Linked DNA regions of Homo sapiens: all the other regions are linked to region 1. Evidence: fine-mapped expression QTL. A gene starts in region 1. Each other region holds a variant in brackets. All regions are shown on one strand. Distances are from middle to middle. Region 1 holds the start of LINC01003 (long intergenic non-protein coding RNA 1003). Region 2 overlaps GALNTL5 (polypeptide N-acetylgalactosaminyltransferase like 5). Region 3 has its middle 37 kb from the start of LINC01003. Region 4 has its middle 62 kb from the start of XRCC2.

Evidence for each region.
Region 2: its variant is fine-mapped to the expression of LINC01003 in ileum (GTEx, PIP 0.98).
Region 3: its variant is fine-mapped to the expression of LINC01003 in minor salivary gland (GTEx, PIP 0.93).
Region 4: its variant is fine-mapped to the expression of LINC01003 in stomach (GTEx, PIP 0.90).

The regions. Positions count from the first base shown.
Region 1 is chr7:152,460,176-152,468,282 of GRCh38, forward strand. It overlaps LINC01003 (long intergenic non-protein coding RNA 1003), which reads left to right and starts at 3,949. Exons shown (of 1, transcript NR_027387.1): 1 at 3,949-5,370. RefSeq lists a silencer at 3,581-4,600 and enhancers at 3,873-4,374, 4,375-4,874.
Region 2 is chr7:151,996,734-152,004,840 of GRCh38, forward strand. It overlaps GALNTL5 (polypeptide N-acetylgalactosaminyltransferase like 5), which reads left to right. Exons shown (of 9, transcript NM_145292.4): 6 at 5,981-6,230. Among named protein-coding and RNA genes, the nearest start is that of GALNT11, 25 kb to the right of the region's middle. The variant G/A (reference allele first, on the strand shown) is at 4,555.
Region 3 is chr7:152,496,989-152,505,095 of GRCh38, forward strand. No RefSeq gene overlaps it. Among named protein-coding and RNA genes, the nearest start is that of LINC01003, 37 kb to the left of the region's middle. RefSeq lists an enhancer at 2,921-3,421. The variant T/C (reference allele first, on the strand shown) is at 3,499.
Region 4 is chr7:152,609,911-152,618,017 of GRCh38, forward strand. No RefSeq gene overlaps it. Among named protein-coding and RNA genes, the nearest start is that of XRCC2, 62 kb to the right of the region's middle. The variant G/A (reference allele first, on the strand shown) is at 4,632.

The sequences.
Region 1 (8,107 bases):
GCTGCCTGCCAACTATCTGCCCACCTGGGGCCAGGGTGAGGGCAAGGCCAGTGGCTACATTCTGTGAACAGCTGGAAAAAAAGTAGGCAACACAGTGGCCTTGGGACAATGGCCTTCCCACTCTCCTTGTCACGAAATAGCAGGATTAAAAAAAAAGGGGGGGAGGATATTTATTTAATCCTTTTGTTACAAATTAAAGTTGCTAATTTGTTTTCAAAAATTGCAGGAAATAAAGTACACGAATCAAAGAAACACAAAATATTTAAAAACAAAATAGCTATTCTCCCAACTTTCTTACTTATAGGTATGTCTATACAATTGTGGCAGAATCCAAAGGGAAGGACAGTTTGGTTAGTCCATTTGGTCACAGCAAATGTACCTGTTCATTTGTTCATCAACGATTTGTTGAGCACTCACCTTGTGCCCTGAAGATACAGTTCAGAAAAAACACCGAAAAGGCCCCTGTGTCCAGCAGCTCACATCTTAATGGTGGAAGGGAGATGAAGGAGAACAGACCATAATAAGTAAGTAAACAATGATTTCAGACTGTGCCAAGAGCTCTGAGGAAAACACGGTGATATGATAGGGAGCGGGGAAAGGTACTTTAGGTACAATGTCAGAAATGCCTCCCCCAGGCCAGGCGAGGGGGTGCAAGCCTGGAATCCTAGCACTTTGGGAGGCCGAGGTGGGTGGATCACTTGAGCCCAGGAGTTTGAGACCAGCCTGGGGTTTCACCATGTGAAACCCAGACTCCACAAAAAAAAAAAAAAAGACAAAAAAAATTGGCTGGGTGCCATGGCTCATGCCTGTAATCCCAGCACTTTGGGAGGCCAAAGCAGGTAGAGCTCAGGAGTTCAAGACCAGACTGGCCAACATGGTGAAACCCCGTCTCTACTAAAAATACAAAAATTAACTGGGCACCATGGTGGGTGTTTGTAATCCCAGCTACTTGGGAGGCTGAAACAGGAGAATCACTTGAACCCAGGAGGTGGAGGTTGCAGTGAGCCGAGATCATGCCACTGCACCCCAGCCTGGGTGAAAGAGCAAGACTCTGTCTCAAAATAAATAAATTAATTAAATTAAATTAAAATTAAAAAAATTAGCCAGGTGTGGTGGTGCATACCTGTAGTCCCCACTACTTGGGAGGCTGAGGTGGGAGGATCACTTGAGCCCAGGAGGTCAAAGCTGTAGTGAGCCGAGATTGCACCACTGCACTCCAGCCTTGGAGCCTTGGCAACAGAGAGAGACCCTGTCTCAAAAAAAAAAAAAAAAAAAAAAAAAAAAAAGAAAGAAAGAGAAAGAAAGAGAAAGAAAGAAAAAAGAAAAAGAGGCCAGGTGCAGTGGCTCATGCCTGTAATCCCAACACTTTGGGAGGCTGAGGTGGGCAGATCACTTGAGGTCAGGAGTTCGAGACCAGCCTGACCAACATGGCGAAACCCTGTCTCTACTAAAAATACAAAAATTAGCTGGGTGTGGTGGCAGGCACCTGTAATCCCAGCTACTAGGGAGGCTGAGGCAGGAGAATCACTTGAACCTGGGAGGCAGAGGTTGCAGTGAGCCAAGCATGGGCGACAGAGTGAGACTCCATCTCAAAAAAAGGAAAAGGAAAGGAAAGGAGGAAGAAACGAAGAAACGAAGGAAGAAAGGAAGAAAGAAAGAAAAATAAAGAAAAGAGAGAGAAGAGGGAAGGGGAGGGGAGGGGAGCAGGGAAGAGAGGAGAGGCTGGGCCCAGTGGTTCACACCTGTAAGCTGAGGTGAAGGAGTTTGAGACCAGCCTGGCCAACATCGTGAAACCCCATCTCTACTAAAAATACAAAAATTAGCCAGGGTTGGTGGCACGTGCCTGTAATCACAGCTACTCAGGAGGCTGAGGCAGGAGAATCGCTTAAACCTGGAAGGCGGAGGTTGCAGTGAGCTGAAATCGCACCATTGCACTCCAGCCTGGGCGACAGGGCAAGACTCCGTTTCAAAAAAAAAAAAAGGAGAAAGAAACAAAGAAAGAAAGAAAAATGCCTCCCCAAGGTGACAGACGAGCTAAGCCAGGCGAAAAGTCTAAAGAAATTCAAGTGCAAAGGCCCTCTGGCAAAAAGGTCTTGGCAGAAAGGTGGTCAGTGTGCCTGCTGCACTGAAACTGCTCCTGTAAGGCAGGGATCCTATAAGGTAGGCCTTGAATGTCATGATGGGGAGCTCGGTTAGGACCCCCATGATAGGTAGGAAGGCAGCTGGAAAGAGCAGTTCTGCCATTTTTACGGATACATTCATGAGCCATGATGGGTCGTCCTGGTGGACCTCTGGAGCCTGACCTGGGTCCACGTTTGAGGTCTCCGACTTTAGTGACCCTGGGAAAGTTACTTGAGTTTCCTCATTTGAATAGCCAAGGGTTTCTCGTGTTTGATGCCAAATGCCTTGTGCGGGGATTGGCTCCAAACCTCAGCCTCATCAGTCAATTTATCCTTACGTTCAAGAGCAGCCATTTACAAAACGAGCTCAGAAAATTAAAAAAAAAATACAAACTTTAAATCGCCAGAATACTGCATAAACTAAAAGTAGGCCGGGCGCAGTGGCTCACGCCTGTAATCCCAGCACTTTGGGAGGTCGAAGCGGGCGGATCACCTGAGGTCAGGAATTCGAGACCAGCCTGACCAACATGGAGAAACCCCGTCTCTACTAAAAATGCAAAAATTAGCTGGGCATGGTGGTGGGCGCCTGTACTCCCAGCTATTTGGGAGGCTGAGGCAGGAGAATTGCTTGAACCCAGGAGACGGAGGTTGCAGTGAGCTGAGATCGCGCCACTGCACTCTAGCCTGGGCGACAGAGCGAGACTCCATCTCAAAGCAAACAAACAAATAAAAACAAAGTAAAAGTAAATTCCCCAGGCAAAGCTGATTATATTGCTGGGATAATCGACTTTGTCACTGCAGTCTCACTTGGTACTTTAAGAAACTCCATCTTGATCCTAGGTCTGGGTCGATCTGGGCGTTCCTGCTAATTTTCTGTTTTAAAAACCTAAAGCAATAAAAATGTTGATATTGACATTTATCATTTTTATCCTCGCCCTCTGCCTTGTTTTGCTGGGAGATCTGTTCCACTTGGCTGAGTTTAGGGAGGGCGGGGAAGCGGGGGAGAAACCGAGGCGCAGGGTGGAGAAAGGGAGAAGCCTTGCAGACTGAACACATGAGAAAACCTGGAGAAGGGATTCGCTGCTGCTTATTTCAGGGAAGAAAACCGAGAAGTGAAGCACAGAGGGGTCAGGTTCCGGGAGCGGCGGGAAGGTTGTAGGGGGCCCCAGGGCAGGTCCTGGAGCTCAGGCAGCCGGCACCGGGAGCCCAGCTCAGGCTGCGGGGTGCAACCGGGCAAGAGCGCTCGGGCTGCCGAAACGGGAGGAGATCAGAAAAAGGAGAGACATGGAAAAAAGGAGAGGAAGAGGAGCAACACTCAAGAGGGAAGGAAGAAGGCAGACACTGAGGAACGCCCGCAGGAACCCGCAGACAAGCAGAGAGCCGGGCTGCGCTGGGAGCGGGGCCCGCGGAAGGGGCGGGGCGCCAGGCGGCTCGAGGCCAATGGGAGGGCGGGCCGGGGCGAGGGCGGGGCACTAGGCGAAACGACGCCAATGGGAGGGCGGGCCGGGGCGAGGGCGGGGAATTAGGCGGTGCGAGGCCAATGGGAGGGCGGGCCGGGTCCTCTGGGCTGAGGCGGGGTGCCAGGCGGCACGAAGCCAGTGGGAGGGTGAGTTAGGGGCAGGGGCGGGGTCCCAAGCCAATGGAAGGGTGATACCGAGAGGGCGGGGCGCCAGGCGGCGAGAGAGCCAATGGGAGGCCGAGCCGAGGACCGCGGGCGGTGGGCCTCCCCCCGAGAGGAGGGAGACCCGGAAGGCGGTGGGGGCGGGGAGTGGAGCTGACAACCTGTCAAATCCACTTTGGGACGAACTAGGTCACGCGCTCCGCGGGTCGGGCACCCCCGCCCGCCAGGCACGGCCGCGGCTCCTTCCTCTTCCTGCCCGCGGTAGTGGGGGTGGGGCAGGCCTCGGGACACCTGCCTCCGCCGCCGGCCGCCGGCCGCCGTCCTCGCGCGGCTTCCCGGGCGGCTCTGCCCCGACCGTAGACTCCCGGCCCGCTCGCCGCGGCAGGAGCCGTGGTTCCGCGGACCTGGGCGCGCTCTCTCCCTGGCCACTGGGAGACCCCCCGCGGCCTCGCGGGGAAAACCTCGGGACTGCCCCGCGCCCCCGGCCGTCTCTGCGTCGCTCCTTCTCGCCCGCGACCGTGGACTCGTCCTCGCGAGCCTGGGTTGGCGGAAGCTGCGGGGGCCGGGGTCGCACTACTTGGCGCGGAAGGGCCGGCGGTGGGCGGAGGGATCCCCGTCCGCGGGGTGAGCCGCTGGGCGGAGCCGGGAGGAGCCGCGAGGATCCGCAGTGGGGAGCCGGGAGGAACCTGGCGCCGGCACCCACCCGCCGCGCCCACGCGTGCCGCGGTCGCTTGTTTCCCGCGGGAGCCCGGCCGCGCTCGGGGGGAGGCGCGCGCGCAGCTGGGGCTGCCTGGGTCTAGGAGCTCCGGAGCCACCGTTTTGTGCCCGTGGAGCCGCGGGGAAGGCGCACGCGCTCGGGTCTTCCCGGCGGGTCGTCCTGCACTTTCTCCCTCTCCGGTACGGACCGCGGCGTTCTGTTTCCAGGCAAAGGAAAATAAGTCAAAGACTCAGAAGGCAGCCTGAATCCAGGGCCTGGGATGCAGGGTTTGCTGGAACGCCAGCCGGTGCGATCGCGCCCCTGGGATTCCGCTTAGCCCGCGCGTCCATTTCCCTGCATGGTGGACTCAGTAAAGCCGGATCTGTCCAACGCCTGCAGCGTGGATGTGGAGGCGGACTAATCAACTAGTGCTCTGTTATTATTTCTACCCATCCCTTTTCTCCATGCTAATTTGCTTAGAACTTTAACATTGAATGGACAGCAAATGTCATGTTCTGTTTAATTATCACTCCTTGACCATTATGTTAATTTCTTTCCCTAACAAGGTGACGCATTGTTTTAAGTAACAATGACCAACTCATCTACTCTTCTTCCAAATTGTGTAAATTGAAGGGTAAAATGTGGGAAAACGCTAAATTTGAATGCTAAATTTGAACATTTCACACAACAATAATTTGAAATGCTTCTTTGCAATATTATGGCGTTTCGGAACAGATAAAAATACTTCATTTTCAGACATTTGGTCAACAAATACTTCTTGGACGTTTATATGCAAAGCAATGCATGTAACATTTTCATTACTTTGCAAGTGTGCTTATCAGTAAAAGAATTTTGTTTTAAATTCTAGCCTTCGTTTAAATGTATTTTAGTTACCACATTGGGAAGAAAATAAAATATTACTATGTACGGAATGTACAGACGTATGTTTTTTTATTTACAAAAAATAGAAAGAAAATATGGCCGGGTGCTGTGGGTCACGCATGTAATCCCAGCACTTTGGGAGGCCGAGGCAGGCGGATCACCTGAGGTCAGGAGTTGGAAACTATCCTGACCAATATGGTGAAACCCACTCTCTACTAAAAGTACAAAAATGAGCCTGGGCGTGGTGGCGGGTGCCTGCAGTCCCAGCTGCTTGGGAGGCTGAGACGGGAAAATTTCTTGAACCCGGGAGGCGGAGGTTGCAGTGATTGTGCCACTGCACTCCAGCCTGGGCAACAGAGCGAGACTCCGTCTCAAAAAAAAAAAATCTATATCTATATATATATATAGATATATAAAGATATAGATATATAGATATCTATATCTAGGTCTATATAAGTATATATCTATAGATATCTATATATAGGTCTATATAGATATATGTATAGATATATATAGATACCTATATATCTAGATAAATGTATAGATATATAGATCTATAGAGATATCTATAGATCTATATAGATGTATGTATAGATATATAGATCTATGGAGATCTCTATAGATCTATATAGATATATGTATAGATATATAGATATCTATATATAGATATATAGGTCTATATATAGATATCTATATATAGATATATATGTTCCTTAAATTCAACATTAAGAATGAGCTTATTCATAATTAGCTGTAGTATTACACTTGAACTACCATATTTATTACATTTATAAATACTATTTATAAATAGTAATATAAATAGTAAATGCTATTAACATTTAGTAAATGCTATTAAGGTAGGAATAGAGGTTCCAATCTTTTAAATAGAAATTAAATACAAACAAAGCAACAAAAAGAGACCTTTCATATATGGTTATTGGCTTGTCATTGTAGCCAGTTCCTTACTGCCAGCTAATTTTCCAAAGGGAATCGTTGCTTTCTGTTTTGACCAATTGGCAACCTCAACAGTGCTAGAAACTCTTAGCCCTCATTGGGTATATAAATATATATCTTATTTCAAATGTTTTGTTATCTATTCCTACTGAAGGTTGTTTTCTTCTCTCTTTTTTTTTTGAGACGGAGTCTCACTCTGTCACCAGGGCTGGAGTGCAGTGGCGCGATCTCGGTTCACTGCAACCTCTGCCACCGGGGTTCAAGCGATTCTCCTGCCTCAGCCTTCTGAGTAGCTGGGATTACAGGCGCCCGCCACTATGCCCAGCTAATTTTTTGTATTTTTAGTAGAGATGGGGTTTCACCATGTTGGCCAGGCGGACTCAAACTACTGACCTCGTTATTCACCCGGCGCGGCCTCCCAAAGTGCTGGGATTATAGTCATGAGCCCGGCCCTCTTTTTTTTTTTCGTTTTTTTTTTTTTTTTGTGCTCATCATTTTGATCTTAATACCCACTAAAAAGATAATAAAACCACAAGTGTTTTTCTTCAGATCACGAGATTGTCAATAATAGAAAGTCAACACTGTCAAATCATGAGAATGAATTGCATATCATTGTACAAAAATTGAATACTGGAATTTAGCTCCTAGATCTATTATATTACCATAATAAGAAAAACTAAAGAATTAAAAAATCTAAACAAAATGCAATCCTAAATGATATTGCGGCCAGGCACAGTGGTTCACACCTGTAATTCAGCATTTTCGGAGGCCAGAGCAGATGGTGGCTTGAGCCCAGGAGTTGGAGACTAGCCTAGGGAACATGGCAAAACCTCATCTCTACAGAAAGGAAAAAAGGCAAAACCTCATCTATACAAAAAATTAGCTGGGCGTAGTGGCACATAGCTGTAGACCTAGCTACTCAAGAGGCAGAGGCAGGAGGATTGCGTGAGAACGGGATGTCGAGACTGCAGTGAGCCATAATGGCGCCACTGCACCCCAGCCTGGGCAACAGAGCAAGACCCTGTCTCGAGACAAGTTCGTCTTGCTGCATTTCAGTATTTTTAACTCCTTTAATGTAGTGTAGACAATTTTGATATGATGTGTCACATCTTTTTTTAACGTCTAATTTCTTTTTTTTTTTTTTTGAAACGGAGTTTCACTCTTGTTGCCCAGGCTGGAGTGCAGTGGCGTGATCTCTGCTCACTGCAACCTCTGCCTCCCGGGTTCAAGCAGTTCTCCTGTTTCAGCCTCCCAGGTAGCTGGGGCTACAGGTGCCTGCCACCATGCCCAGCTAATTTTTGTGTTTTTGGTAGAGACGGGGTTTCACCTTGTTGGTCAGGCTGGTCTCGAACTCCTGACCTCAGGTGATCCACCCACCTCGGCCTCCCAAAGTGTTGGGATTATAGGTGTGAGGAACCTGGCCTTAACGTCTAATTTCAGAAGAAAGCTAATTCTCCTTTTTTTTGGGGGGGGGGGACAGAGTCTCGCTCTGTCACCCAGGCTGGAGTGCAGTGGCGCGATCTCGGCTCACTGCAAGCTCCGCCTCCCGGGTTCACTCCATTCTCCTGCCTCAGCCTCTCCGAGTAGCTGGGACTACAGGCGCCCACCACCACGCCCGGCTAATCTTTTTGTATTTTTAGTAGAGACGGGGTTTCACCGTGGTCTCGATCTCCTGACCTCATGATCCGCCCGCCTCGGCATCCCAAAGTGCTGGGATTACAAGCATGAGCCACCGCGCCCAGCCGAAGAAATCTACTTCTTTCCGTTCCTCTTAAAGATGAAAATTAGAAACATTCTGCCTTAATTATTTTTATTTTTTTGAGACAGTCTTGC
Region 2 (8,107 bases), 460 kb before region 1:
TCACAACCTCATCTCACAAAACAAATTAAAACAAGATACAGCAATAACATAACGTGTAGGTAAAAAAAAAAGAAAAAATATTTTTAAGATTTTAAAAATGCTTGGTTGTAGAGACCAAACTGAGAATTTTAATGTGATGTAAAATAAATTATATATAATGAGTTACGTTTAAGGGTGAAAATGTGGACACTAACCAAAGAACGAAAATAAATACAAAACAGAGAAAAACAGGAAATACTGTGAAATTGATACATACGCTATTTGTTGCTTTTCAAAAAACAAGTTAACAAACGTTGCAATCCACAATCCCTAGAGAAATGGTGCAAATAGACTACGACAGGAGAGCAGAAAATAAGCTTCTACACAGGGTAAGATGGAGGACGTAGCTCCCAACTCCAAACTTTAGGGAGCAATGGAATTGTTTAGAATATTTCCACAAATACTCTTTGGAAGCAAGTAGGGGAAGAATTCCTCTATCAGGCAGGCTTGACCTCACGCCCTTTACTCATCACAAGCACTAAAGAGAATCTGATGAATGTCTGATAGGTCATCTAGCACATGAATGATAGGCCATCTCTAAAACCAATAAATAGCACGGTCCTTCCCGAAACTCTCGAAGGCAGCAGAAGTAGAGCAACCGTCCTTTCCTAGCACCAAACTTTAGGTTTCCACAAAATATTCCTGTGAAGGAGAGAAATCAGCTGAAGAGGGACCCTCACTACTACTTTGCTCTCCTTACAGGATGTAAATTTCCCCTGTTAAATATTTTATGATGAGTGAAAATAAAACCTCATTGAAATGTAGGTGCTAGGTGGCCTGTTCCCACGTTTTTAACTTAAATCAAAATTCAGTAATACCCCATATTAATTTTGCATAAAGTATAATTTTAAATTATTTTGCAATTTTTAATATTGCATTTATGGTCTTTCTGGGTCATTAGAATCCTCAAAGTTGCAAATATTTAAATCTTTCAATATTAAGGGTACAAGTGTACACTGTATACAGTAAAGAGATACCACAAATCTGTATGGGAAAAAAGACTTTTAAAATGTTTTTGTTGCAGTTGTTGTTTAATGCCACTTAAACAATTAGCCATTTGGGAAAATTTTAGGTCTTTATTTCATACCATAACCCAAATAAATTATAACTGGATTAATGTTAATTTTATTTTAAAAAATCAAACCATAGCCAGGTGTGGTGGCTCATGCTTGTAATCCTAGCGCTTTAGGAGGCCAAGGCAAGAGGATTGCTTGAGGCCAGGAGTTCTAAGACCAGCCTGACAACACAGTGAGACACCATCTCTACAAAAATTTTTATTAAAAAAAGTAGGCGAGTGTGTTGGTGCACACCTGTAGTCCTAAGCTACTCAGGAGGCTGAGGCAAGAGGATCGCTTGAGTCCAGGAGTTGGAGGTTATAGTGAGCTATAATAGCACCACTCCACTCCAGCCTGGGCAACAGAGTGAGACTGTCTCTGTAAAAACATCATCATCATCAAACTTCTTAAGGGATAATTTAAAAATATAAAAACATAGATTAATACTTGCCTGTTTTATGAATAAAGAAATTTCAAAGCTTAAAACCAATGGAAAAGGTGCTAAAAAAAAGTCTATTTTTTTAACAAAAAAATGTAAAATTGCTGCAAATAAAAAATAATAAAATTAAATAACAGTAGGCTGGGGAAATGTAACAGGACTAAAAGTTAATATTTTTAGTATGTAAAATGTACATTTAAAATCCATTAAAAATACAACTCCAAGCTGGGCATGGTGGCTCACGCCCATAATCCCAGCACTTTGGAAGGCTGAGGCAGGTAGATCATTTGAAGTCAGAAGTTTGAGACCAGCCTGGCCAACACGGTGAAACCCCATCTCCACTAAAAATACAAAAATTAGCTGGACATGTTGGCAGGTGCCTGTAATCCCAGCTACTTGGGAGGCTGAAGCAGGACAATTGCTTGAAGCCAGGAGGTGAATGTTGCAGTGAGCTGAGATCATGCTACTGCACTCCAGCCTGGGTGACAGAGCGAGACTCTATCTAAAAAAAAAAAAACAAAAAACAAAACTACTCCGATAGGCAAAGTACACGACAATTTCATTTACAAATGGCTAATCATGTGGAAAATTCAACCTCACCAGCGATTAAAAAAAAATTAACCAGATTTTTTAAAATTGAGGCACGATTAACATAAAACTGATCATTTAAAAATGAACAATTAAGTAGCATTTCGCACCTTCACAATGTTGTACAGCCATGACCTCTAACTCCAAAACATTTTCATTACCTGAAAAGAAAGTCTTTTAGCCATTAAGCAGCTTCCTTCCCTCCAGTCTCTGGCAACCACCTATCTGTGTTCTGTCTCTTTCTAGATATTTCATATCAACGGAATCATACAATATGTAACTTTTTGTGTCGGGCTTCTTTCACTTAGTATATTTTTGAGGTTCATCCACATGGTGGATGTGTCAGTGCTTCCTTTTTTATGGTTGAATAATATTCCATTCTGTGATACACCACAGTTTGTTTCTCCATTCATCCATTGATGGGCATTTGGGCTGTTTCCCTCTTTTGGCTGTTGTCAACAGTACTGCTGTGACCATGCACATATATACATTTGTTTGAATTCTTTTGGGCATGTTCCTAGGAATAGAATTGCTGGGTCTTATGGTAATTCCAGGTTTAATTTTTTGAGGAGCTGCCAAGCTCTTTTCTTCAGTGGCTGCACCATTTACACTCCCACCAGCAATGTGTAAGAGTTCAAATTTCTCCATATCCCTGCCAAAACTTATTTTTCATTTTTTAAGTTCTCGTCATCCTAGTGGAAGTGAAGTGGTTCTTCACGTTGGTTTTGATTTGTGTTTTCCTAATGACATGATGTTTCGCATCTGTTTGTGTGCTTGCTAGCCATTCGTACATCTTCTTAGGAGAACCAGATGTTATTTTTCACCTATCAAATGAGCAGACATGATTTTAAAATGCTAATAATGTTACGTAATATTATAGAAGCTATTTTAGGTGAAAAATGTGAAGTATAAAGCTGTGTGTGTGCTGCCAATAGTATGAAAACATATGTGTTAAAAATGGGACTCTTGTTAGCTCAGTTTTGGTTGAGGCATGAAAATCATAGCTGTAATATTCCAAAGTGAGTTGTTAGACTGACCACGATAAAGATATTTCAAAATAGAGATCTGAGAACCAATGAGATGGCTCAGCCAGATTGAGTCATGTTGTTAGAGATTAAAGGAGATTTTTGGAGAAAGCTACTGCTCAAAGCCTGGTGAGAGAGACTTGATATGAATTCAGCACATTCTCAGACATCAATACAATAAAATTGGAAATATATTGGGATTGAGGAGAAGTGAACTAATGTTAGTTTTCTGCCGAAAATCAAAAGGATAAAAAGACTGTGACCAGCTGTAGAACAAAGGACACTTGCTTTTAGATTAGTAGCTGTATTTATGGCAGAGTTTGCTTTGGCAGTGTTGGAGAGAGAGCTATAGGGATCATCTTAGATGGTGTCCGGTAGGACTATCTAGAAGAATGGACAGGCCTCAGCAGAGAAGCTGGAGACAGAACACAGGATCTTAAGGAGCTGAGAAGACAGATTGAGTCACCAGAATAGAATGCACTTGCCCAGTTTGTGGGAACTGCTGACCAGAGACCACCAGGGATGAGAAGGGAGGTCCTCAAAGTTGCTATTGCCAGCCACACACCCTCAGAGAACTCAGCCCAGAGAGTGCCCTTCAGGCAAGAGAGAACTTTCCTGTTCTCTGTACTCCTCCCCTCCCACCCATCATTCCCAACAGCACTGGACAAGTGTTTCAATTTCTCCACCACCTCCCCAACACTTGCTATTGTCTGTCTTTTTCATTCTTGCCGTCCTAGTGGATGTAAAGGGATACCTCACTGTGATTTTTATTAACGTTTTTCTGATGACTAATGGTGTTGAACATCTTTTCACATGCTCATCAGCCATTTATACGTCTTTGCAAAGATGTCTATTCAAATCTCTTGCGCATTTTAAATCAGGTTGTCTTTTTATTACTAACTTGTAAGAATTATTTATATATTCTCATACAAGTCCTTTAGTATATGTATGATTTGGAAATACTTTCCCCCATTTTGTGGATTTTTTTCTCTTTCTTTGTTTCTTTTTCTTTTCTTTTCTTTTTTTTCTTTCTTTTTTTTTTTTTTGACAGAGTCTTGCTCTGTCACCCAGGCTGGAGTGCAGTGGCACGATCTTGGCTCACTGCAACCTCCGCCTCCTGGGGTCAAGTGATTCTCCTGCCTCAGCCTCCTAAGTAGCTGGGATTACAGGCACCCACCACCACACCTGGCTAATTTTTTTTTTTTGTATTTTTAATAGAGACGGGGTTTCGCTATGTTGGCCAGGCTGGTCTTGAACTCCTGACCTCAGGTGATCCACCCCCCTCAGCCTCCCAAAGTGCTGGGATTACAGGCATAAGCCACCGCACCAGCCATTTTTTTTTTTTCATTTTCTCGATTGTGTCTTTTAAGCACAAAAGTTTTTGCTTTTGATGAATTCCAACGTATAT[G/A]TTTTTTCTTATGTCCCCTGTATTTTTGGTGTCATATCTAAGAAACCATTGCCTCACCTAAGGTCATAAATATATGCTTATGTTTCCTTCTGAGTTTTATAATTTTAGCTCTTACCTTAGGTCTATGACCCATTTGATTTGATTTTTAGTATGATATGAGGTAGGGGTCTAACTTCATTCTTTTGCATGTGGATATTCCGTTGCCTCAGCACAATTTATTGAAAAGACTATACTTTCTCCATTGAATTGTCTTGGCCCTTGTCAAAAATCAATTGACCATAGACACATGGTTTATTTCTGGTTTCTGTGTCTATCCTTACACCAATGGCACACTGTTTTGATTATTATCACTTTGTAGTAACCCTTGAAATCAGAAAGCCCTTCAACCTTATTTTTCTTTTTCAAAATTATTTTGGCTAATCTAGGTCCATTGCCTTTTCATATGACTTTTAGGATCAATTTCTTTAAAAAGAGCCAGCTGGGATTGCAATAGGGATTGCACTAAATCTGTAGATTAGTATGGGGGTTATTGCCATATTAAGTCTTCTGATCAAAACATGAGATTTTTTTATACCTTTCTAATGATTTTACACTGGCTACAAGAAAAAGTCTAAACTCTGCTACTTGAAGTTTGGGGTTCCTTCTACATCAAGCCCCTGGTGTACTTCAATAATACACTTTCTCTACTTTAACCATGCCAATTATTCCCATGTCCTCTAAGCAGAATAGGTCCCCACTGAAGCTTGAACTCAAAGGCTGAGGTGGGCGGATCACCTGAGGTCAGGAGCTCGAGACCAGCCTGGCCAACACGGTGAAACCCCGTCTCTACTAAAAATACAAAAATTAGCCTGGCATGTTGGCAGGCACCTGTAATCCCAGCTACTTGGGAGGCTGAGGCAGGAGAATTGCTTGAACCCGGGAGGCGGATGTTGCAGTGAGCCAATATCATGCCACTGCACTCCAGCCTGGGTGATAGAACAAGACTCCATCTCAGAAAAAAAAAAAAACTTGAACTCAAGAGCAAAAGTCGTGATGCATGTCTGCATCCCATGCACCAAACTCAATGCCTAAGAAGGTGTCCTTTCAGTAAAAATTTGCTAAATTTAAGCTGATCAGTCAAGACCAAGCTAAAATCATTTTTTAAAATGGAAATCCAGTTCAGTTCCACCTGCTCCTTTAGAATTCTCCCCAAAACCACTCTCTAACCCACAATTACTGGCTTCCCCTCAACATCTATGGCACATGATGTTGCATATTTTTGTACATAATAATGTATTTCTTGTTTCCTTCCAATGAAAATGAAAGCACTGTAAGAGCCAAACACATAGTAAATGCTCAAGAAATATTCATCACATTGAACTTTGATTTGGATTGCCGTATTTTTTCAGCTATGTGGACTAACATTGCCCTGTTCTTGCCTCCCCAGGGGATGTTCTGGTGTTCCTGGACAGCCACTGTGAGGTGAACAGAGTATGGCTGGAGCCCCTGCTGCATGCCATTGCCAAGGACCCCAAAATGGTGGTGTGCCCCCTGATAGATGTCATTGATGATAGAACTCTGGAGTATAAGCCCTCTCCTCTTGTAAGGGGAACTTTTGATTGGAACCTACAATTTAAATGGGATAATGTTTTCTCTTATGAGATGGATGGACCAGAAGGATCTACTAAACCAATCCGGTGAGATTTCTTCTGGTTTTGGAAAAATATAGCATACGTGTATTGAGACCCAGGGGGAAAAAGCCTCCAGAGATTATTCTTTCAAGTTCTTGGGCTTAATCAAAATGTTATGTTACTTGTTTCTAGAAGTCTTTAATACAGTAATAGAATTATTGTTAATAGAATCACTTAGGACTCAATATATAACGTGATATGATATTTATCTTCATATCATCTATAACTCTTTGATTCTCTGGTACTGAACACAATCCTATATGGATTCAATCATGACTTTCAGGAGCAATATTTCATTTGACTAAAAGCTCAAGTCAAACAGATCTGGTTTGAAGGAGAGACTCCATCATTTGTTAGCAGTTTAGGGCTGCCATGTACAGTTGCACCAGCTGTGCACTGCACATCTCCAGGAGATACTGTTCACACAAAGACCACAAGGTCAATGGCATGTCTGGAATTGTACATTAAGATGGCCCTCAGTTGGCACAATTACCTCTCTCAACTTCAATGTCGTCCTCATCTGTTAAACAGTGATAGTAATAATTAACACATTTCTTAGGATCGTTGAGGGGATTAAATGAGCCAATACATGTAAAACACATAGCATAAGGCTTGACACAGAGGAAGTGATCTGATCAATATCAACATTAGCTACAGTAATGTCACAGACTTTGGAACAAAGAGGAACAAAAGTGTACTTTATTGTAATAAAATGTAATATGTAGAAATCTCAACTTAATAAAAATAAACAGCATTAATCTTTTGAGTTATCTCAAAACTATTTTAAATAGTTACTTTTAGTAAGAAATAGCTATGGTGTTCCAATTACACAAACTTGGTTTATAATTTTTGTAATATTTCCATATCTCACATATAAAACATTTTTAGGCTCTAATGTAAAAATAACTGATATTCAACAGGGAAACTGTATTCCTAATATTTATTTGCTAAATGGTAAAATGTTTAGAATTCTAATACACTGCTCGTGTGTATATACATTGGATCATTCTTTTTGAAAACAATTTGGCAATGCAAATTAAGAATCTTATAAATATCCTTATTCTTTGATGCAGTAATCCACTTACTTGAATTTATTTGAAGAGAGTCAGAAATAAGCACGGAGATATATATAGTGTGTCAATATTTATATTCATAAAAAACTGAAAACAACATATTCAATACTATTGAAATGGGTAAAAAATAAAGTATATTCATTTTTATGGACTATCACATAATCATTAAAGTTAAGTTTTCAAGGGCTAATTAACTAGAAAGAAAACTTCTCATGTGTTAAATTAAAAAATCAAACCATAAAAAATGTTCTGTCAGTATACCTTTGTGTGATTAAATATGTACCTATTATATGTAATATATATTATACATATTACATATATTATAATTGTATGTTACATTAAAATATATAATATGTATAAGAAAACATAAGTTATTTTTTAAAGGTTAAAAGAAAAAATAAATTTTATTTTGTTATTTTATTGATTTATTATTATTTGTATAAATATAAGGGGTACAAGTGCAATTTTGTTATATGGCTATATTGCCTAGTGGTAAAGTCTGGACTTTCCAAGTATCCACCACTCAAACAATGTACACCGGACCCATTAAGTCACTTCTCATCATCCATTGCCCTCCTGTCACCACCCTTCTGTCTCCAATGCCTGTCAGTCCACACTCTATGTCCATGTGTATACATTATTTAGTTCCCACTTATAAATGAGAACATGTGTATTTCTCTTTCTGCTTCTGGATTGTTTCACTTAAGATAATGGCCTCCAGTTCCATCCATGTTGCAGCCAAAGACATCATTTTATTCTTTTTTATGGCTGAATAGTATTCCATTGTGTATATATACCACATTTTCTTTA
Region 3 (8,107 bases), 37 kb after region 1:
CCTGTAGTCCCAGCTACTCGGGAGACTGAGGCAGGAGAATGGTGTGAACCCGGGAGGCGGAGCTTGCAGAGAGCTGAGATGGCGCCACTGCACTCCAGCCTGGGTGATAAGGCAAGACTCCGTCTCAAAAAAAAAAAAAAAAAAAGAAATAATAAATTAAGAACATGATCCTTTTTAAAAATTATTTCTTGAGATGGAGTCTCACTTTGTCACCCAGGCTGGAGTGCAGTGGGCCTATCTTGGCTCACTGCAACCTCCACCTCCCAGGTTCAAGCGATTCTCCTACCTCAGCCTTCTAAGTAACTGGGATTACAGGCACCCACCACCACGCCTGGCTTATTGTAGACAATGATCCATTTACGGGCAACACAAATATATGATAGTGGTGACAGTCATAATTAGTGTTTTGTGACTGCCTTTGTATAGAACTTTAGTAGGGATTTCATAGATATAATCTAAATGACATATCCTCAATATCTGTGCTCCTTTTCTTTTTTGAGATAAAGTTTCACCCCGTTACCCAGGCTGGAGTGCAGTGGCTCAATCATAGCTCAAGCAGTCCTCCTGTATAGTTGGGACTGTGCGCACATGCCACTGCACCCTGATTTTATATATATATGTTTTGTTTTGTTTTGTTTTGTTTTTAAGAAGGAGTTTCACTCTTGTTGCCCAGGCTGGAGTGCAATGGCATGATCTTGGCTCACTGCAACCTCTGCCTCCCGGGCTCAAGTGATTCTCCTGCCTCAGCCTCCTGAGTAACTCGGGTTACTGGCGCCCCCCACCACACCCGGCTAATTTTTGTATTTTTGTTAGAGATGGGTTTTCACCATGTTGGCCAGGCTGGTCTTGAGCTCCTGACCTCAGGTGATCCACCTGCCTCAGCCTCCCAAACTGCTGGGATTACAGTTGTGAGCCATCGTGCCCGGCTTTTTTATTTTATTTTATTTTTAGTAGAGATGAAGTCTTGTTATGTTGCCCAGGTTGGTCTTGAACTCCTGGGCTCAAGCAATCCTCTTGCCTTGGCCTCCCAAAATGTCAGGATTATAGGTGTCAACCACTGTGCCCAGGCATTTTTCCTTTTCTAGTAACAAGAATCCTGATTTTTTTGCTGGGCACCTGGCTGTGAACACTACAATGCTCAGCCCCTCTTACAGCTGGAGTGGGCACCTTCTGGAAATCATCCTTCCCTTTCTCCTCTTTCTCCTGGCCAGCACGCAGAGGAGCAGGCCAGGGCTGAGACAGCTGGCATGGACCACCTGAGGCCATGGAGTGACGTGCAGCCAAGAGCCTGACAGAGGAGTCAGGGTCCCTCACCCAGGGATGGCAGAACCAGCCTTGATTTTATCTAAGGGAGAGATGGACTTCTATCTGCTCAAGCCACTGATTGTTGGCATTTTCATTACTTGCTGCTGAACCTTATCTTCATTAATACAAATAGGTTGTCATTATATATTTTCTTTTTTCTTTTTTTCTTTTTTTTTTTTTTTTGTTTCAGAGTCTCGTTCTGTTGCCAGGCTGGAGTGCGGTGGCGCAATCTCGCCTCACTGCAACCTCTGCCTCCCGGGTTCAAGCAATTCTCCTACCTCAGCCTCCCAAGTAGCTTGGATTACAGGCACCCACCACTACGCCCGGCTAACTTTTGTATCTTTTTGTAGTAGAGATAGGGTTTCACCATGTTGGCCAGGCTGGTCTCGAACTCCTGACCTTGTGATCTGCCCACCTCGGCCTCCCGAAGTGCTGGGATTACAGGTGTGAGCCACTGTGCCAGGCTGTCATTATTTATTTCCTAAAGGCATTAGACAAGTTCCTAAGACATGGCAAAATTTGAATATGAACCAGGTCTGTTTTCTGTAAAACTTTGTTATTTTCAGTAAATTATTCTTCTTACCACTAATGTTTACAAAAATGGCAGCTGTATACTATTAAAGATTTGCAGAGAATACAAAGTCAAAATATCAGTAGCCACTGAGAGCTTTAACTGAAGCTCTCAGATAAATATTTAAAGACCTAGGACTTTTAAAGGGACTATTTACAGTGGAATAGTGTCATAAACTGAATTTTGAAAAAACAAACAGAAAGTGTAAAAGAAAGCTCTCCAAGGGACCAATACTTTAATTTCAGGAGTGTTCTCATCCTTTGTAACATGGTATTTTCTATATAGTGTGAAAGGAAAATAAATCTTGGGACCCCAAAATTACTAAGCCAAGGAAAAAGTCAGGCTGGGAAGTGTCAGGCAAACCTGCTTCCCATTTTATTCCTAAATAAGATAGTTACAAAGATAAAAAAGCTATATACCTCATGTAATCATGATTGTGGTATTTTTATTTCTTATTTATTTATTTATCTTTTTGAGATGGAGTCTTGCTGTGTCGCCCAGGCTGGAGTGCAGCGGCGCAATCTCGGCTCACTGCAAGTTCCGCCTCCCGGGTTCACGCCATTCTCCTGCCTCAGCCTCCCGAGTAGCTGGGACTATAGGCGCCCGCCACCACGCCTGGCTCTTTTTTTTGTATTTTTAGTAGAGACGGGGTTTCACCGTGTTAGCCAGGATGGTCTCGATCTCCTGACCTCGTGATTCACCTGCCTTGGCCTCCCAAAGTGCTGGGATTACAGGCATGAGCCACCACACCTGGCCTGATTGTGGTATTTTAAAAAAAAAAGAAAAAAGAAAAAAAGTAAATTAGAAAAAAGCTACATGGCTGGGTGTGGTGGCTCACGCCTGTAATCCCAGCACTTTGGGAGGCCGAGGCAGGCAGATCACAAGGTCAGGAATTTGAGACCAGCCTGACCAACATGGTGGAACCCTGTCTCTACTAAAAAAATACAAAAATTAGCTAAGCGTGGTGGCGCACACCTGTAATCCCAGCTACTTAGGAGGCTTGAACTCGGGAGGCGGAGATTGCAGTGAGCCAAGATTGCACCACGGCACTCCAGCCTGGGCAACAGAGCAGACTCTGTCTTAAAAATAAATAAATAAAAATAAATAAATAAAAGCTACATACCTTCCTCACAATTTGCCCCCAGAGAAATTCCTTGTGGGCCTCAAGATCTTTACCCTAAAACAGTTCTGTTGAATTTCACCCTGGCAATGTAAATTGATAGCTTATCTTTACAGATGAGGGACCGTCCCTCTGCTCACCTGAGACAAAGGCATATCTGATTGCTTCCTCTACTGGTTATGTAAAAATGCAGATTCACTGAGTCATGCTCAGTTATGTATTCAGTGAAAGGCTGATCAAGGACTCCAAAGAATGCAACCTTTTTTTTTTTTTTTTTTTGAGACAGAGTCTGGCTCAGTTGCCCAGGCTGGAGTGCAGTGAGGAGATCTCGGCTCACTGCAGCCTCTGCCTCCCAGGTTCAAGTAATTCTCCTGCCTCAGCCTCCTGAGAAGCTGGGACTAAAGGTGCACCACCATATCCAGCTAATTTTTGTATTTTTTTGGTAGAGAAGGGGTTTCCCTGTGTTAGCCAGGTTAGTCTTGATCTCCTGGTCTCAAGTGAT[T/C]CCCCCTGCCTTGGCCTCCCAAAGTGCTGGGATTACAGGTGTGAGCCAATGTGCCCGGACTAGAATGCAGTCTTTTGTCTCTTATCTACCTGGACCTGGAAGCCCCAATTTTGAGTTGTCCTGCCTTTTGGGACCAAACCAATGTACATCTTTTTTTCATTTTTTATTTTTTTGAGATGGAGTTTCGCTCTTGTTGCCCACGCTGGATTGCAATGGCACGATCTCAGCCAACTGCAACCTCCGCCTCCCGGGTTCAAGCGATTCTCCTGCCTCAGCCTCCTGAGTAGCTGGGACTACAGGCGCCCGCCACCATGCCTGTTTAATTTTGTATTTTTAGTATACACGGGGTTTCTCCACGTTGGTCAGGCTCAAACTCCCGACCTCAGGTGATCCACCTGCCTCGGCCTCCCGACCTCAGGTGATCCACCCACCTCGGCCTCCCAAAGTGCTGAGATTACAGGCATGAGCCACCGGGCCCGGCCAAACCAATATACATCTTACACATATTGATTGATGTCTCATGTCACTCTAAAATGTATAAAAGCAAGCTGTATCCTGACCATTCTGGCATATGTCCGCAGGACCTCCTGAGGCTGTCTCACGAGTGGTCATTAGCCTTGGCAAAATCAACTTTCTGAAATGACTGAGACCTGTCTCAGATATTTTGGGTTGACAATACACACACACACACACACACACACACACACACACACACAGAGTTTTGGTGACAGGGTTAGAGAAAAATAATATCTACTTTCATGGCTTACAACTCTGGTTTTACAACAGAAGTAAAAAAAATTTTATTCTAATAGCATGATTTATCTTTGCCAATTTTTGAAAATTTTTATTTTATTTTATTTTATTTTTTGGAGAGAAGTGCACAGTCATAGCTCATCAGAACAGAATATCTTACCAGGAGGCATGTCACCCTTGTCTCCTTAAAACCTTTCCCCGCACACACACAAAACACTCTCATTTTGGATTTTGTGCCTATGTTCATGTCATTCCCTCTGTTTGCAATTGCTTTCTTTCCCACCAATCAACTAACTGCGCTAATTACTAAGTCTTGATCTTCTCCTCCATGAAGGCTTCCTGGATTGGTCTAGTCTACAACAGTAGTTCTCAAAGCACAGTACGGCAGCAGCAGTGTCACCTGGGACTGGAAATTCACTCCTGCAACCCCAGACCTACTGAGCTGGCAACCCTGGGGGGCCCAGCACTCTGTGTCATTGAGTCTAAGATGCTTTTGATGTGACTCAGATTAGCTTGTCACTGCTCTAAGGCCATATTGATCCCTCCCTTCTCTGGGTCCCCATGCCACGTACAGTTCACAGTACATCACTTGGAGCTGAATCCCCTTTTAAAGAATTGTTATAGTAGGCTTCCCTAGATTCAGGTAGATTGTCTACTCCCCAGGTAGATATTCAATAAAGATTTAGTGCTTGGCTCTTTGAAAGAAGGTGGTGGCTCATGCCTGTAATCCCAGCACTTTGGGAGGCCAAGGTGGGCGGATCACAAGGTCAGGAGTTCAAACCCGCCTGCCCAATCTGGTGAAACCCCATCTCTAAAAAAAATACAAAAATTAGCTGGGTGTGGCAGCGCATAACTGTAATCCCAGCTACTTGGGAGGCTGAGGCAGGAGAATCGCTTGAACCTGGGAGGCGGAGGTTGCAATGAGCTCAGATTGTGCCATAGCACTCCAGGCTGGGCAACAAGAGTGAAACTTTGTCTCAAAAAAAAAAAAAAAAAATTGAATGCTAAAGGTCACCGCAGCAATCAATGTCATCTTCTGTTGCTGTGGATGTTTATGTTATTATTATTATTATTATTGAGACAAAGTCTCGCTCTGTGGCCCAGGTTGGAGTGCAGTGGTGTGATCTTGGCTCCCTGCAACCTCCACCTCCCGGGTTCAAGCAATTCTCGAGCCTCAGCCTCGCAAATAGCTGGGACTACAGGCCCGACTGATTTTTGTATTTTAGTAGAGACGGGGTTTCACTATGCTGCCCAGGCTGGTCTGTAACTCCTGGCCTCAAGGGATCTGCCCACCTCGGCCTCCCAAAGTGCTGGCATTACAGGCATGAGCCACCACGCTCGGCTGGATGTTCATATTAACACAAGATGCTGTATCAAGACCCACGCGATACTGAACAGACATGACCCTTATCCTTACATGTGAAGATGTGGAATGGTCCTCTCAGGTACATGACTCCACAGGGAATGTATATATTGTCATAATAATTCTACTTACTAACTTTGATTGAGCACCTATTGTGTGCCAGGTAATGTTCTCAGCAGGACTAGCTGCATAATTTGCAGGGCTCAGGGCAAAATGAAAACACAGGGCTCCTTGTTCGAACAGCAGAGAAAAGTGCTGTTAAAGGTACCAAGTACAGGCCGGGCACAGTGGCTTGCGCCCATAATCTCAGCACTCTGGGAGGCTGAGCTGGGAGGATCGTGTGAGCTCAGGAATTTGAGACCAGCCTGGGCAACGTAGTGAGACCTCATCTCTACTTCAGAAAAAAAAAAAATCAGCTAGGCGTGGTGTTGTGCACCTAGTCCCAGCTACTCAGGAGGCCAAGGTGGGAGGCCTGAGCCCGGGAGTTCAAGGCTGCAGTGAGCTATTACTGCACCACAGCATGCCAGCCTGGGCAACTGAGCAAGACCCTGTCTTAAAAAAAAAAAAGGGTACCAAATACAAAGTATTCTTTTTTTCATGATCTATCTGTGTAACTGTCCTGTTTGTAAATCTTCTGTTGAATATTATACTCCCTGCAGCATCAAGGATGCTCCTGGAGGAGTGGGGACGCTCCCAAGGGCTGGGGTCCCTGCCCTACCATTCTGTGTTCACAGGCGCATCCATCTGCCACTGAGCCCCACTCTGACTAGCCACTAGACCAATGCACCATGCCCTGGCTAGGGGCCAGGAGCCTACCACCCAATCTGTGGCAGAGAGGTCACCCTCCAAGGCATTGCAAAGTTTGCACCAGCACACACTAGGTACCTGGGTAGGCAGCAGGCAAGAGGCTTGCCCCCACCGGGGGTGCTCGGGAGCATGCTGTGTGCTCAAGACACCAGGGAACACGTGCCTTACCCTGATCCTCCTGCACCCACACTCAGGCCCTGCCCAGAGTGAAGGGTGGCCAGGTGGCCAGGTGGGAGTGGGGAGGGGGCCATGGAACCCAGGGTGCAGGGGACAGGGGAATGGGCAGTCAGGAACCTGCCAGGGGGAGGCAGGGAGGTGGGACCACACACTGCACTACAAGTCCATGATGCATGCGCACTCCATTGCCCTGTGGGAACAGAAATTCAAAGACAAAATCATTAAGAATTTCAGGCTGGGTGCAGTGGCTCATGCTTGTAATCCCAGCACTTCGGGAGGCTGAGGCAGATCTCATGAGGTCAAGAGTTCGAGACCAGCCTGGCCAACATGGTGAAACCACATCTCTACTAAAAATACAAAACTTAGCTGGGTGTGGTGGCACGCACCTGTAATCCCAGCTACTCAGGAGGCTGAGGCAGGAGAATCACTTGAACCTGGGAGGCGGAGGTTACAGTGAGCCGAGATCGTGCCATTGCACTCCAGTCTGGGTGACAAGAACAAAACTCCATATCAAAAAAATAAAAAATAAAGAATTTCAAGATGATGACTGCAGAACATTCAGTCCCAAGTGTGGGACCCTTTTGAGCATGGGGACGCTGTGTCACGGCACTAACAGCATACCCCTGAAGCCAGCCTCGTTCTGAGACTTTTGTGAGACTTATTAAATCTCCACGCAAGCCTATAAGGGTATTGTCCCCAATTAGCAGACAAGGAAGTTGAGGCATAGACAAGTGGCCTGCCCAAGATTGCTTAGCTGGGCGGATGGGTGGGGTGATACCAGCCCAGTCTCACCCACATCTGCCTGCTTCACCTTGCTCATTGCTGCTCTTCAGAGAATATTTGCAGAGCAATAGAAATTCAGAAGGACAGCCAAATAGTTACAGCTCATGCTCGTCCAGTTGGCATTAAAGCTCTGTCCTCACTGCAGTCCCCACCCCCCACCAATGGTTTGTTGATCCTCTCCCATAGCAGAAGCAGGAACACTGAAACCATGATAGGTATGAGCTCAGGAGACGTTCCCAGGAGATCTGCCTATGGCCTTGGGGAAAACTGGTAGAGCTGGTTGGAGCTGGCCCTCTCCCCAGCTGCCTTCCACAATTAGCTCAGGGGGCACACTTAGTCCCTCCTGGAGGTTTCACGACCTGGCACCAGATGCAGACCCTGGTCAGCTCTGTTAAGGAAGGACTCTGTGAGCAGGTGCTGGTGTCAGCCAGGACTTGGGGTAATCTTCTAGAACTTTACTGTAGTTTTTTCAGTGTCCACACTTCCTGGAATTCGTCTAGTTTATTTCACTGAAAGTGGGCAGGATCTTTGAAAAGACACTCTCAAAAGAATTGGATTCCCCTTATCTATTCAGCATTTCCTTTGTCACCAAAGTGATCAGTCAGAAGTAGTTAGAAAGTAGCCCCAACACGGCCGGGCACAGTGGCTCACGCCTGTAATCCCAGGACTTTGGGGGGCCGAGGCGGGTGGAGCACGAGGTCTGGAGTTCTTAGACCAGCCTGGCCA
Region 4 (8,107 bases), 150 kb after region 1:
ATTTTCATAGTTAAAGGTGCTTAAGGAAGCAACTCATTAATTTGATACCAATAAGGGGAAGGAATCAAGTATTTATCCTGCCTTTGCAAACATGACGGGGGAATTCTTCTCTATAGAAGAACTATAGCTAATATATGCCAAAGGAATGAAAACATTAGAATGCTGCCATTTAGTAAACCCTAACAAAATCATTCTAGCCACTGATTATCAATATCTGCTAAAATTATTGGGTGAAATGTTAATAGGGAACTTTAGAATAGATGGGTCAGGCTGACAACATTTGAACTCTGATCAGTTCTAACATTATTGGATAGTGAGAGATTTTGTGCCTCCTGAATAAAAAGCAAAAGCAAGTTCACAGCACCACCTATAAAGTATTCTTGGGTTTTTTATTTGTTTGTTCTTTGTATTTCTTTGTCGCTCTGTCACCCAGGCTGGAGTGCAGTGGCACGATCTTGGCTCACGGCAATCTCAGCCTCCCAGGCTCAAGCGATTCTCTCACCTCAGCCTTCTGAGTAGCTGGGACCACAGGTGCGTGGCACCAGGCCCGGCTAATTTTTTGTATTTTGTGTAGAGATTGGGTTTTGTCTTATTCCCCAGGTTGGTTTTGAACTCTAGGGCTCAAGTGATCCTCTCACCTCGGCCTCCCAAAGTGTCAGAATTACAGGTGTGAGCCACCGCGCCCAGCCCAAGGTATTCTTGAAAAACAAAAACAAACACAAAACAAAAAAAACCTAACTCTCATGAATGGTCTAAATTTTTCTACTAGTTTATAGAAAATATGGGGGCTAAAGGAGCACATAAAAGAACACTGTGAGGCGGCCAGGCACGGTGGCTCATGACTGTAATCCCAGCACTTTGAGAGGCCAAGGCAGGTGGATCACTTGAGGTCAGGAGTTCAAGACCAGCCCGGCCAACATGGTGAAACTCTGTCTCTACTAAAATTACAAAAATTAGCTGGGCGTGGTGGCGGGTGCCTGTAATACCAGCTACTTGGGAAACTGAGGCACGAGGCTCTCTTGAACCGGGAGGCGTAGGTTGCAGTGAGTCAAGATCGCGCCACTGCACTCCAGCCTGGGCGACAGAGCAAGAATCCGTCTCAACAAAAAAAAAAAAAAAAAAAAAAGAGCACTGAGGATATAATCTGCCACATTTAGACTGTAAAATTGTGTAGGACAAATGACGACCTCGTCATGCAATCACAACTAAGTTCAGGGTGACCTTGATTTCATCCTGATTCAAACAAACTGAAAAGGCCGGGTGCGGTGGCTCACGCCTGGAATCCCAGCACTTTGGGAGACCAAGGTGGGCAGATACCTGAGGTCAGGAATTCAAGACCAGCCTGACCAACATGGTGAGACCCCCATCTCTACTAAAAATACAAAAAATTAGCTGGGTGTGGTGTCAGACATCTGTAATCCCGGCTACTCAGGTGGCTGAGGCAGGAGAATCACTTGAACCTGGGAGGCGGAGGTTGCAGTGAACGGAGATTGCGCCACTGCACACTGCATTCCAGCCTGGGTGACAGAGAGAGACTCCGTCCCCCCAAAAAACAAACAAACTGAAAAGACATTTTAATTATTTTAGTTGTTTGGTCTTTTATTTTTAGAAACAGAGTCTGGCTGTGTTGCCCAGGCTGAAGTGTGGTGGAGTGATCATAGCTCACTGCAGCCTTGAATTCCTGGGTCCAAGTGATCCTCCTGCCTCAGCCTCCTGAGTTCCTGGGGCTACAGGTGCACGCCACCATTCCTGGCTAATTTTTTATTTTTTGTGGAGACAGCATCTCCCTCTGTTGCCCAGGCTGGTCTGGAACTCCTGGCTTCATGCAGTCTTCCCGCCTTGGCCTCCTACAGTGCTGAGATTACAGTTGTGAGCCACCACACCCGGCCTAGTTTTTAATTTTTATGGGTACATAATAGGTATATATGTTCATGGGTGCATGTGATGATAAAGGTAGACCATGTGTAATAATCACGTCTGGGTAAGTGGGGTATCCATCACCTTGAGCATTTATCATTTCTTTGTGTTAGGAACATGGAAAATTAGACTCTTTTATCTATTTAAAAATATACAATAGGGCTGGGCACGGTTGCTTATGCCTGTCATCCCAGCACTTCGGGAGGCCCAGGCAGGCGGATCACCTGAGGTCAGGAGTTTGAGGCCAGCCTGACCAACACGGTGAAACCCTGTCTCTACTAAAAATACAAAAAATATTAGTTGCGCATGGTGGCAGGCACCTGTAATCCCAGCTACTTGGGAGACTGAGGCAGGAGAATCACTTGAACGTAGGAGAATCACTTGAACCCAGGAGGCAGAGGTCGAATTGAGCTGAGATGGCACCATTGTACTCCAGCCTGGGCGACAGTGCAAGATTCCGTCTCAAAATACGTGTGTGTGTGTGTGTGTGTGTGTGTGTGTGTGTGTGTGTGTGTGTATAAACACAATAAATTATTGTTTAGTGTAGTCACCTGTTGTGCTAGATCTTATTCTATCTAACTATATTTTTGCCCCCATTAACCATCCTCACTCCACCCCCACACCTACCACTACCCTTCCCAGCCTCTGGTAACCATCATTCTATTCTCTATCCCCATGAGTTTGTTTTAAATTTTAGTTCTCACATATGAGTGAGACATGTGCAATTGGTCTTTCTGTGCCTGATTTCACTTAATGTAATGTCTTCCAGTTCCATCTGTGTCACAAATGACGGAATTTCATTCTTTTTTTGGCTGAGTACGTGTCCATTGTGTACATGTACCACATTTTCTTTATTCATTTGTCGGTTGATGGAGGCTTAGGTTGCTTCCAAACCTTGGCTATTGTGAATAGTGCTGTGATAAACATGAGAGTGCAGATATCTCTTTGATACATTGATTTCCTTTCTTTGGGGTTGATATGGTTTGGCTGTTTCCCCAGCCAGATCTGAACTTGAATTGTATCTCCCAGGATTCCCATGTCTTGTGGGAGGGACCCAGGGGGAGGTAATTGAACCACGGGGGCCAGTCTTTCCCATGCTATTCTCATGATAGTGAATAAGTCTCATGAGATCTGATGGGTTTATCAAGGGTTTCCGCTTTTGCTTTTTCCTCATTTTCTCTTGCCGCCACCATGTAAGAAGTGCCTTTCGCCTCCAACTATGATTCTGAGGCCTCCCCAGCCATGTGGAACTGTAAGTCCAATTAAACCTTTTTTCTTCCCAGTCTGGGATATGTCTTTATCAGCAGTGTGAAAACAGAGTAATACACAGGTGTATACCTAGCAATGGGATTGCTGGATCATGTGGTAGCTCTATTTTCAGTTTGTTGAGGAACCTCCATACTGTTCTCCATAGTGGCTGTACTAATTTACCTTCCCACCAACAGTGTATGAGGGTTCCCTTTTCACCACATCTTCGATCCTTGTCAGCATTTGTTATTGTCTGTCTTTTGGATGACAGCCATTTTAACTGGGGTGAGATGATATCTCATGTGTGTTTTTTTTTTTTTTTTTTTTTTTTTTTTTGAGACAGAGTCTCACTCTGTCACCCAGGCTAGAGTGCAGTGGCACTATCTTGGCTTCACTGCAACCTCTGCTTCCTGGGTTCAGGCGATTCTCCTGCCTCAGCCTCCCGAGTAGCTGGGACTACAGGTGTGTGCCACCATGCCCAGCTAATTTTTGTATTTTTAGTTGAGACGGGCTTTCACCATGTCGGCCAGGATGGTCTTGATCTGTTGACCTTGTGATCCACCCACCTTGGCCTCCCAAAGTGCTGGGATTACAGGCATGAGCCACTGTGCCTGGCCCTCATTGTGGTTTTAATTTGCATTTCTCTGATGATTAATGATGTTGGCCATTTTTTCATCAGAAAGACCTTTTTTTTTTTTTTTTTGAGATGGAGTCTTGCTCTGTCGCCCAGGCTGGAGTGCTGTGGCGCGATCTCAGCTCACTGCAAGCTCTGCCTTCCAGGTTCATGCCATTCTCCTGCCTCAGCCTCCCAAGTAGCTGGGACTACAGGCGCCCGCCACCACGCCCGGCTAATTTTTTGTATTTTTAGTAGAGATGGGGTTTCACCGTGTTAGCCAGGATGGTCTCGATCTCCTGACCTCGTGATCCACCTGCCTCGGCCTCCCAAAGTGCTGGGATTACAGGCATGAGCCACCGTGCCCGGCCTGAAAAGGCATTTTTGAGGCATTGTGGAAATGTGAACATGCCTGGATAGTGGGTGATATTAAGGAACTGTTTATTAGGGAACTGTTTTTTGGGGGTGCAGTAATTATGTTATGGTTATTTTTTGAAATATCTTTACCAGGCTGGGCAACATAGCAAGACTGTGTCTCTAAAAAAATTTTTTTTAATTAGCTGGGGGTGGTGGTGCACGCCTGTAGTCCCAGCTACTAACTTAGGAGGTCATGGCGGGAGGATCGCTTGAGTGTAGGAGTTTGAAGCTGCGGTGAGCCACGATCAAACCACTGCCCTCTACTGCACTTCACTCTGGGCAACAGGGCAAGACCCTGCCTCAAAAAAAAAATTGTATTAAACTATATTAGAATGACATGCTAAAGCACTTATAAGTAAAATGATACGTCTGGTATTTGCTTAAAAATTCTCTAGTAAAAAGAAAAAAAGCGGAGGTGGGGGGAATAGGCCAAAAA[G/A]GATGGCAGAAGGTAGAGAATTCACTGATGGACAGGTATATGGGGGTATATATGGGGTATATGGGGGCTTATTCTACTTTTGTGAGTTTTTGAGAATTCCCATAATAGAAACAATTAAAAAAAAATTTTTTTTTGAGACAGGGTCTCTCTGTCGACCAGGCTGGAGTGCAGTGGTATGACCTCGGCTTACTGCAACCTCCACCTACCAGGTTCAAGCAATTCATGTGCCTCAGCCTCCTGAGTAGCTGTGATTACAGATGTCCAGAGTAATTTCTGAATTTTTAGTAGAGTTGGGGTTTCACCATGTTGGCCAGGCTGTTCTTGAACTTCTGACCTCACGTGATCCACCTGCCTCGGCCTCTCAAAGTGCCGGGATTACAGGCCTGAGCTACCACGCTGGCCTAGAAACCAGTTGTAAATCCTCCTTTGCTTTTTCCTCTCTGAGGTATTTTCCTGCTAAAGAGCAAGGTTGAGCACTTCACACTTTATCTCAAAGTGTCTTTGAAGAGTAAAGCAAATCTCTCAACAGAGTATTCCAAGATAAAGAACAGCCATCTCCAAATTCATGCCACAGTGAGGAACTGTGCTAGGTCAGGAGACTGTTTGGAGCCCGGGACACTGGGGGTTAACAGCCTGTGCCTGGCAGCTGAGTGTCCCCACAGCTGCCAGCAATTAGACTAGCTGGCAGTCCCCTTAGGAAACTCCTGCTGCCTGATGAGGACTAATTGCTTGCCGGCGTCTAAGTCCCCAATCGATAGAAATGGAAATCCATTAGGGAAAGGCTGGCGGGAGGGACTGCCTTCTGGGGAGGGTGCAGCCCTGCAGAGGCACAGGCCTGGCCAGGGTGGGTGCTGCCAACACTGCCAACACACCCTACCGTGGGTGCTGCCAACGCACCGTCCCTGGAAAACCACCCAGTGAAACGCTGTCCCCTAGAGAGTGTTCCTTTCCTCCTGACTGTGGTCTACCACTGAAGAAGCCTGTCTGCCCAACGTGGCATTACCACAATTGCTTCTCAGAGAAACAAACCACGTGTCCTGGGAGAGTGGCAGAGGCCAAGGTCAGTGCAGACAGGGATGCTCTGTAAGGTTCGGTGCAGCTAAGCAAGGGGGCTTAGCTGAGCTTTGAGTCAGGCAGTTTTCTGTAATAAGCAGACTCAGTGCAGTGACTCGTAAGCAGCTACTGAAAATCCATACTTCAGATCCCTGTCAGTTAGAAATTGTGTCCACACACCAGAGAGAATGGCAGTTTTCATGGGAATTATTTCAACCAATGATATGCTGGTTTCGGAGAAAACAAAGATGAGTAGGACCTGGTCCTTACCTTAAAGAATCCTACCATCCATGCAAGTTCAAAAACAACGTGATTCCAGAGGGACAGTTTAAAATGCTTATGAGAACAAAATAAAATGAGGATTTCTAATCCCACCACCACCACCAAATCTTCTCACTTAATTGATTTTTTGGTTAAAACTACCCCTCCCACTCACAAGGAGTTTTGTTTTCAACCTATTTGGAAATTCAAGGCTATTATAATGAAGTATGTATTGTATTATTTGAGAAAATACATTTGTGAGCTTACTTTAGATAAGTTGCACAAGTTGGATACGGGTCACATAAAAAGTTCTTTCTTATCAGGAGTTCAGGAACAAAAAGTCCCTCTGTAAGATTATATATAAAGATTATATTCAATTCAAACTGTGATTTTGTTTCTCCAGAAATAACATGCTTGTTGTTAAGAGTTTATGAAAATTAGACGAGAAAAGAACCACAGTATTATTTTGCAACTTTGTGCAGAGGCAGATTCTTGTCCCTCTTGCACTACAATTGCCAGAATTCTGAACAGGGGCCGGGCACGGTGGCTCATGCCTGTAATCCCAGCACTTTGGGAGGCCAAGGTGGGTGGATTGCCCAAGCTCAGGGGTTCAAGACCACCCTGGGCTACATGGCGAAACCCCATCTCTTCTAAAAGTACAAAAATTAGCTGGATGTGGTGGTGAGTGCCTGTAGTCCCAGCTACGGGGGAGGCTGAACGCAGGAGAATTGCTTGAACTGGGGAGGCGGAGGTTGCAGTGAGCTGAGATTGCAGCACTGCACTCCAGCCTGGGTGGCAGAGCAAGATTCCATCTCAAAAAAAAAAAAAATAATTCTGAATGCAATTGAAGTAAAACTATTGTAAAGTTAAAAAATGAAGTGAAATGTGTTCTTGTTATTGACCTCAAATATAATCTAGAACAACCTGTGTAAGCACTTAAAGCATTTGCTTTTAAGGCATTGGATTCACAATCAGGTTCATTGCAAATGATCCACTCATTAAAAGAAGGTCTGGCACCCGCAACTCATTTAAGTTGTATGTGTGTGTTAAAGGAACACTGAAACTGCATTTCTGTTAAAACATTGATTCATATTTTCCCAAACTAGTACCGTATGACTTTTCAATGTAGACTTAAGGCAATTTCAAATACCAATTACCACATTATAGAGAAATCCTTAAAATTTCACCAGTGTTTTCTTTTAGAATAAGTGCTGCAGACGGGCACGGAAGAGACGCCTGTGGAAATGATCTGGATTTCACTGTACAGTTATGTCTCTGAGGCTATTGCCTATCAAACCACTTTTTGTTTAGGAGGTTGCTTAATGGGAGTCAATTCTTAGTATTCTTCCGTGCTGCTGAACAGGGTGAGGTCATGCAGGAAGCCGAAAGGGACAGATGAATTTCAGTGACAGAGCTCAGGAGGCCATCAGGAGAACAGACCTTGTCAGTGACTTGCAAATTCACTTGTTTAAAGTGTATTTTTTTAAATGTTTTCATAAAATAGCCTGATTATAAAGTAAGGAGACTGGTTTTAGAAACTTCAAAAGAAAGCAAATCTCATTGTTCTATGCTCAAAACCTATACTTTGTCATTTGATCCAAAGGAAGACATGTATTACTTATTACTGTGTTGGTCAATAAGAGGGGAAGAAGGAAAAGAAAGTGATCTGTAGGAGATGACACAATTGATGAACAGCAGGGCTGCTCTGACAACCTGATTCTATCAATTTCTAATTCAGTGCTCATCCTTTACTTTTTTTTTTTTTTTTTTTTTTGAGATGGAGTCTTGCTCTGTCACCCAGGCTGCAGTGCAGTGGCATGATCTCGGCTCACCTCAACCTCTGCTTCCCGAGTTCAAGTGATTCTCCTGCCTCAGCCTCCTGAGTAGCTGGGATTACAGGCATGCGCCACCATGCCCGGCTAATTTTTGTATTTTAGTAGAGACCGGGTTTCACCATGTTGGTCAGGCTGGTCTCAAACTCCTGACCTCGTGATTCACCTACCTCAGCCTTGCAAAGTTCTGGGATTACAAGCGTGAGCCACCGTGCCTGGCCATTGGTGCCTTTTTAAGGAGAACCCAGAGAACAGCCTTGCCCCTTCCACCATGTGAGGTTACAATGAGAAGGCTTCATCTGTGGACCAGAAAGCAGGCCCTCACCAGAT